2 linked regions of the Homo sapiens genome follow. The protein of the gene in region 2 purifies or fractionates together with the protein of the main gene of each other region. This does not show direct contact. Each region holds a gene or a part of one and is shown on either strand. Other genes may lie near its edges.

Region 1 (4,201 bases), on a different chromosome or scaffold from region 2:
CCTGGCAGAGACTACCTTAACCATGTGATCCAGGTTAATACTGCCAGTGACAACTCATGTTGATACGTAACCCCTAATATGATGACGTGAACATACTTCACCTCTGTGGCATTCTTTCCCCAAACCCATAACCTCAGTCTAATCATGAAAAAAACAAGATAAACCCAATTTGTAGAGGATTCTACAAAAATATCTGACCAGTGCTTTTCAAAACCGTCAAGATGGTAAAATGAAGGAAACGACTGGGAAATTGTCATGGATTGTTGGCAACTATGGAAACAGGATGAATAAATATAATGTTGGATCGCGGGATAGTAAAAGGACATTAGCAAAGGGCCGGGCGTGGTGGTTCACACCTGTAATCCCAGTACTTTGAGAGGCCCAGGTGGGTGCATCACTTGAGGTCTGGAGCTCAAGATCAGCCTGGCCAACATGGAGAAACCCTGTCTCTACTAAAAAAATACAAAAATTAGCTGGTCGTGGTGGTGTGCACCTGTAGTCCCAGCTACTAGGTAGGCTGAGGCAGGGGAATTGCTTGATCCTGGGAGGCGGAGGTTGCAGTGAGCCGAGATCACACCACTGCACTCCAGCCTGGGCTACAGAGCCAGCCTCCGTCAAAAAAAAACCCAGAACATTAGTAGAAAAAACAGTGAAATCTGAATAAAGTCTGTAGTTTAGTTAGTCATGCACCAATGTTAATTTCGTAATATGACATGGTGATGTAAGATGTTATCATTAAGGGAGACTGAATGAGGGACTGTATTATTTTACAACTTTTCTATAAATCTGAAAATATTCCCAAATATAAATTTGTAAAAAATGAAGAGGAAACTTACAGGTTTTTAAAATACCGAAAGAAACATAACCATTTTAAATGTAATGCGTAGACCAATGTCTAGATCCAAACTAAAACAAACTATAAAAACAAACAAACAAACAAAATGCCTGTTTGAGACAATCAGACTGAAGGTTAGATGACAAAGAATTGCTAATTTTGTTGGATGTGATAATAATATTGTTACATTTTAAAATCCTCATCTGTTAGAGGAAAATGTTGAGGAACTCCCAGATGAAATGTTATGATGTTTGGATTTTGCTTTAAAATACTCCCACAAAACAAGGGAAGGGAGGTGATAGATGAAACAAGATTAGCATAGAGCTGATGATTGCTGAAGTCGGGTGATGAGTACATAGAATTCATGGCAATGTTCTCTCTACATTTATTGGTATTTGAAAATTTCCATACTAAGAAGCTAAAAGAACAGAACGAAAACAAAAACAGACACACACACATATGTAAGCAAGATACCAAGGCTGCCAGTTTGAAGCCACTGAAGAAAACAAGAAATTTACCCTGAGAATGCATAATTAATAAGAGCTCAGAGTAACTGACAATTTTCAGGTAAATTTCCTTTCTTCTTATTAATAAATATTCACTGGTGCTAGATCAGAAGCCAATAATTAAGTAAAAGTCAAAAGGAAAATAGAATTCCATCAACTACGTTCTAATTATAAAGAAAAATCCCTTCAGGGATGGTATCTGACTCAGTGAAGCGTGCCTGTGATTTTGGTGGACGAGAACTAGAACTGAACGGTGCTTCAAAACGTATTTTTCTTTCAAAGGTCTCAAAAGCTGTATGACAAATCCGTGAAGAAACAGCATATAAGGTACCTCGACTCCGGCGGCAGCTAAAACCCATCTCACGGACTCCATCCGGCCTCTTCCGTTGGGATAGTGGAGCTTGGGCCTTGCTGCCATGATAGCTTTTCAGGCTTTCTGAAATACAAATGCAGCAGCTCGTCGCAGACCAACAGTCCCAATTTCGCGTCTTCAACCCAGTGCTCAGGGGCGAAATGAATATTCAGGATTTTGGCACGGGAAACTGTTCTTTATTTTTGTTGCTGCATTTTCCCTCACTCAAGAAAAAAAAACCACCATTTTAAAACATGGAGAAAAAAACCTTGGCTTTTATATGATTTCTATTTATGACTTCTTATCCTGGATCTTGGGAAGCTGGGGCCATTTGTTGTAAAAACATATGTGCTAGCAGTACGGGATTTCACAAATTCAGAATATTATATATTTTGACCTCGAGAATCTCAGATTTTCCAAATTCAGCTGGGGGATAGGGGGTGGCAGGCGTTGAAGAGGGTAGCGAAGGAAAATCGCACAGCCACTGGAAGCTCTTCAAGTATTCATGCTTTTACATACATCATCATATTTTATTATCACGGCAACTGGAAGGTGAACAGGCCGAGTACTACTACTGTCTGCAAAATGTGCGTCCACCGTCACGCATGCGGTGGCTGCGCCCCCCGGGTCCCGCGTGTCCACCACCCCTACAGGGAGATGAGCCCCCGGCCTTGTAAAACGAGCCGGGGGCCAGGGCTTGGCCATCTGAGATCGCACTCTCCCATGCTCGTCTTCCCCGCTCAGCCCATGCAGGGGCGTAGCGGCAGCCCAGCCAGGCCCGGGGACGATCCGAGCCCACCTTCCACCAATGCATTCAGACTCCGCAGAAGGGGTTTAAAAAAAAATACGCACACTGAGCCAAGAAGGACCCCAGCTCCAGCCAAGGGGCCCACCTCTGCCCAGACTGGATGGAGCAGGAGGACAAAGGACAAGAGGAAGAAAAGACAAGAGAAGGACTGAACTGGGGGAGTGAGGGAAGAATGCGAGAGTGAGACTCAGAGAGTAAAGGGGAGGGAAAAAAAAGAAGAGAGAAAGGGCGAGGAAGGGGGCGACCGCAGGAGGGAGACAGACCTGGAGTCCACTCGGAGGCCTGGAGCCGCACAAAGCGCCAGGTCAGCGGTCCCGGCTGGGTGAGACCAGCAGGCGGCTCTAGCGCGCGGGAGCTGGGCGAGGCTCCGGGACGACCTCACCAATGGAGACTGCAGTATTTAGCATGCCCCACCCATCTGCAAGGCATTCTGGATAGTGTCAAAACAGCCGGAAATCAAGTCCGTTTATCTCAAACTTTAGCATTTTGGGAATAAATGATATTTGCTATGCTGGTTAAATTAGATTTTAGTTAAATTTCCTGCTGAAGCTCTAGTACGATAAGCAACTTGACCTAAGTGTAAAGTTGAGACTTCCTTCAGGTTTATATAGCTTGTGCGCCGCTTGGGTACCTCGGATGTGAGGGCGATCTGGCTGCGACATCTGTCACCCCATTGATCGCCAGGGTTGATTCGGCTGATCTGGCTGGCTAGGCGGGTGTCCCCTTCCTCCCTCACCGCTCCATGTGCGTCCCTCCCGAAGCTGCGCGCTCGGTCGAAGAGGACGACCATCCCCGATAGAGGAGGACCGGTCTTCGGTCAAGGGTATACGAGTAGCTGCGCTCCCCTGCTAGAACCTCCAAACAAGCTCTCAAGGTCCATTTGTAGGAGAACGTAGGGTAGTCAAGCTTCCAAGACTCCAGACACATCCAAATGAGGCGCTGCATGTGGCAGTCTGCCTTTCTTTTGACCCATTACCCATCTAAGTTAGATGCTTTTTTAAATGTTTTTTAATTTTTAAATTTTTAATTTTTTTCATTATTTATTTTTTATTTTTGAGACGGATCTCGGCTCACTGTAACCTCCACCTCCCGGGTTCAAGCGATTCTCCTGACTCAGCCTCCCGAGTAGCTGGGATTACAGGCGCGCGCCACCATGCCCGGCTAATTTTTCTATTTTTAGTAAAGACGGGGTTTCGCCATGTTGACCAGGGTGGTCTTGAACTCCTGACGTCAGGTGATCCTCCTGCCTCGTGCTGGGATTGCAGGCGTGAGCCACCGCTCCCGGCCCTTAGATGCTTTTTAATCAGCAAGTACGCAATGCTTTCCTGACAGGAATGTCAAGTCCGTCAGGAAATCCACATAAGGGTGTTAAGCAGGCAAAGTACCACATACAGATTAAAATCAAAAGCACTGTCAACGCTTATTTAATTTATACAGTAGACCCTAACTTTTCTAATTTTGTGTATACATATATATACATGTATACATGTATACAAACATACATATTTTCTTCTTTCTTTCTTCATCTCAGTGGGACATCTTGAGATTTCTCTTCATTTTGTACATTTTAGAGACAAGTGCTCTATAGTCACGGTCTCAAGTCAGCACCTGTTTGGAAGGGGGTCTTTGGAGTTGGGGGTGGTGCTAAAAGAATAATTTGGCTGGCAAGTTAGTTAAAACATTAAAAATATATTAAAACT
Region 2 (3,500 bases):
AGGAGGAAGGCGGGGATCTCGAACCACAGGCACCGTGAGTTCTCTCCACAGCTTCCTCTACCCATTCTCACCCAGCGCAAGCCAGACTCCTCATCTCCAATTTCACTGTTTTAGCAGAATAGCTATGGAAAGAATTACAACTGTGGAAATAATAGTAAGAAGAAAAACAAGCTCTCCCATCTGTGGGACAAGGGGCGGTCCAGTGGAACAAGCATGGATCTTGGTATCAAAGGGCCCAGGTTTTGCCCAGGTTCGTCTGCCCCAAACCTGCAGTGGTGATGCAGCTCATCCAGGTGGAGGCCTAGGGCTTGGTCACGGCTGCAGGGTGACCCCCAGGGACTCTCGACCATCTCTTGGGCCACACTCCCTCTCTCTCCATCCCAGCCTGTTTGCTGTTCCTCACATGCCCAGCTTGGCCCCAGTCCTTCTGAGGCCTTTGCCACAGTGTCCCCTTGCCCTAATTGTGCTTCCCCAACTGTGTGACAGCTCACTTTTGTCTTGCCTCTGCTCGAATGAAGGTTATTAAACTTGATCCTGTCCATCCTACATTACGGAGCACGCCCTCCTCCTCTTTTCAGCATGGGAGATATCGTACATTTACATTTCATGATTTACTATGTATCATTATGGTGATCATTTTGGGATGATCACCTCACTTCCCACCTCCAAGAGCCCATGGGCATGTGGTTGATGTCATTTTGTACGCAGAGAACAACACTTAAGTTTGCTGCTGTACCTTGAGTACCTAGACGAGTACCTGGCACAGGGCAGATACACAATCCATCAATGACAGGGACTGTCCTGCTGTCGACCCCAGGGGGTGAGCTTCAGTGCGCTCACCGGCAAAGGAACAAGGGCCGGTGCTCTGCCTACCTGGCCAGGGTTTAGTGGCAGTCAATGAGAGCTCTACAGAGGATGGGCTTTGTAAATGACAGCATCAAGGAATCTCCCATAGTGATAAGGGGGTGGGGATATCAGGCATCTGTCAGTAAAGGTGGGAGGGAGATATGACTACAGGGACTTGAATTTCTCCTCGCTCAGTCTTGTCAGGGTGCAGAGCTCACCACCTCAAGCTTTTCGTGCAAGGGACTCTCGACCATCTCCCTCTCCCTCCTTCCCAGCCTGTTTGCTGTTCCTCACATGCCCTGCTTGACCCCAGTCCTTCTGAGGCCTTTGCCACAGTGTCTCCCCACCCGGATTGTGCTTCCCCGACTGTGTCAGCTCACTTTTGTCGCATCTCTGACCAAATCTGAGGCCCTTTTCCATTCCTATCCCCTTCCAGGTCACAATTTTAGATTCTGACTTTCTCCTTCACCTCCTCCTGCCCCCAGGTGTCCCCACATTCAAAGCATCCTAACCCCTCTTTCTGGAAGCCTCAGAAAATGGTTAAGGCCTCCACTCTGTCCACTAACCCTGGCCTTCCCCCAAGCTGGAGTTCACCTTTCACCTTTCCTACCTCAAGATGAGCACCCAGAATCTAGGCCCGATACTTCGTGAATTTGAGAATAAAATGAAAAGACCATCCCACATGCTGCCAAATACCAGCTGCCCCTAAGCTCATGTATCCAACACTACGTGCTCCTTTCCTTCAGAGGCTGAAATTTTAGTGGGGAGGGCCCAGGTCTGCTTGTCACATTTGGTTCGGCACATGCTGCAGAAGGACAACCACAAAAACCAGCCCAGGTCAGAGAGCAAAGCAGTGTCCTGAGGCCACAGAGACCTGGGTTCAAGATCAGGCCTTGAAAATTACAAAGTACCAAACGGCAGATGTCATCTATGTACCTAATGCATGCGAGGCACTTACACATATAGTCTCTTTAAAGTTTAGGAGATCCATTTCCAAGGCAGGTACTATGATTCCTTTTCTCATGGACAATGAGCCTAATGCTCAGAGAGTCTGAGTAGGCTCCTACGGCTGGCAAGGCAAGGCAGTGGCTGGGTGCTCACCTTCCTTAGGCCTGACCCCACCTACTCAAGCAGCTGGCGGAGGAAACCACACCAGGGTTGCTCAGTTCACTAGGCTCCATCAAGGTGCGCTGTACGTGTGCTTCCCCAGTGTCAGGGGACAGCCAATCCTTGGGGCAGGAGCCTGCTCTTTCTCTAGGGGAGAATCTGCATCCCAGGCAGGAGAGGGGCAAAAGAAAAGAGAAGCCGGGAGAAAGGATGGGGAGGAAATGCAGGCTTGCTGGCCTTGGTAGGTCATTCTTTTGACCTTGCTTCCTTCTCAGAACACTGTGAACTTGTTTACAAAACTTCTAGGCAAGGGTCAAGGCAACTGGTCTGGATTACGTCTTTCAACGAGGACCTTTCAGGATGCATACCACGCGAGAGGAATGGAGGGAGGTCTGACAGGCGGGGGTGAGTGTCAGCTCTGGTCACTGTGGACTTGCTGTGTAACTGCAGGGAGGCTGCTGAAGGTCTTTGGGCCTTGGCTCCCTCCTCTGGGAAAGAGGGCTGCCAGTCACGGTCTCAAGAATGTGTATGGGGAGTCCCTGGTGGGGCTCTAGCACATGTCAGAAATGGGAGCAGAAATGAATGAACAGTCTTGCAATGGCTCATGTCCCCTCACAGTCTGGGCATTATGAATTTTCCAGGCAAAGGAGCTGATTTCCATAAAAACCAACAGAAGCATCTGTGGACCTAGTAATTCAAATGTCCCACTAGTCATGCAGGCATGTAAAAGACATTTACCGAGCATTTACTCTGCTTGAGTTCCCCAACTAGGCACTGGGGAGACAGACATGACAAGTAACACCCACCTTCTCAGTTTTTGTGAGAATTAACTGTAATAATGCAAGTACGGTATCTACCGAGGAGCCTAGCATGGTAGATCTGCAAAAAACTGGGGGCAACAATAATGATCGATCTTATTATTAAGAATGAACCTTTGCACCTACCCTCAACCCAAAAGCCTAGTGGAGAAGATAGGTGAGGAAGCACGAAATGCAAGTCCCCAGCATACGGCCGTAGATGTGAATTCTCGTTCCTTCCTGGGTCTTTTGCACTTGTTCCTCCCGCGGGCTGGAATGCTTTTCCCCAGCTCTGTGCCCAGCCCAGTCCCCTCACTTTATTCAGTTCTGACTACAGTAATCAGGATATGCTTCCTGGAAGTGGTGGTACCAGAAACAGTCCGAGAAGAATAAACATTTCCCAAAGAGACAAGGGGTGGAGGGTGGTGGCAATTTTTGTGCCTAAAACGCTGTAAATGACAATGGTTATCTCCAGTAACTTCTCAGGGGAAGAGACATCTCCCTGCCAGCCACCAGCCTGGGGCAGGATTGGTTTGGCCAGAGAAGCTGGATCCCTGCAGGCCTTTTGCAAACTGTGCCTGGCATAGGAAGAGAACAGCCTGCTTTGCTCTCAACCTGCTGAATGAACAAGGCTTACACGTGGGCAGCCTGTGTACTCAATGACGGCCCAGCCCAGTGCCAGGCCTTGTGTCACCGGATCCCGGTGCCAGGTGAGGAAGCCAAAAGCAGCAGGGTGTGGTTCCTCTCCCA

What was found.
Region 1: the proteins of TRIB2 (region 2) and GSTA4 purify together in Homo sapiens (affinity purification with mass spectrometry; 2 studies listed by BioGRID and IntAct, with this or other methods). This does not show direct contact.

What each region holds. Positions count from the first base shown.
Region 1 is NC_000006.12:52,992,485-52,996,685, forward strand, and holds the start of GSTA4 (glutathione S-transferase A4), read right to left. Parts: upstream 2,801-4,201; 5' UTR 2,765-2,800; intron 1,918-2,764; exon of another isoform or gene 1,778-1,917; 5' UTR 1,760-1,777; coding exon 1,673-1,759; intron 1-1,672. UniProt on the Homo sapiens protein: Conjugation of reduced glutathione to a wide number of exogenous and endogenous hydrophobic electrophiles. This isozyme has a high catalytic efficiency with 4-hydroxyalkenals such as 4-hydroxynonenal (4-HNE).
Region 2 is NC_000002.12:12,733,936-12,737,435, reverse strand, and holds part of TRIB2 (tribbles homolog 2), read right to left. Parts: intron 70-3,500; exon of another isoform or gene 1-69.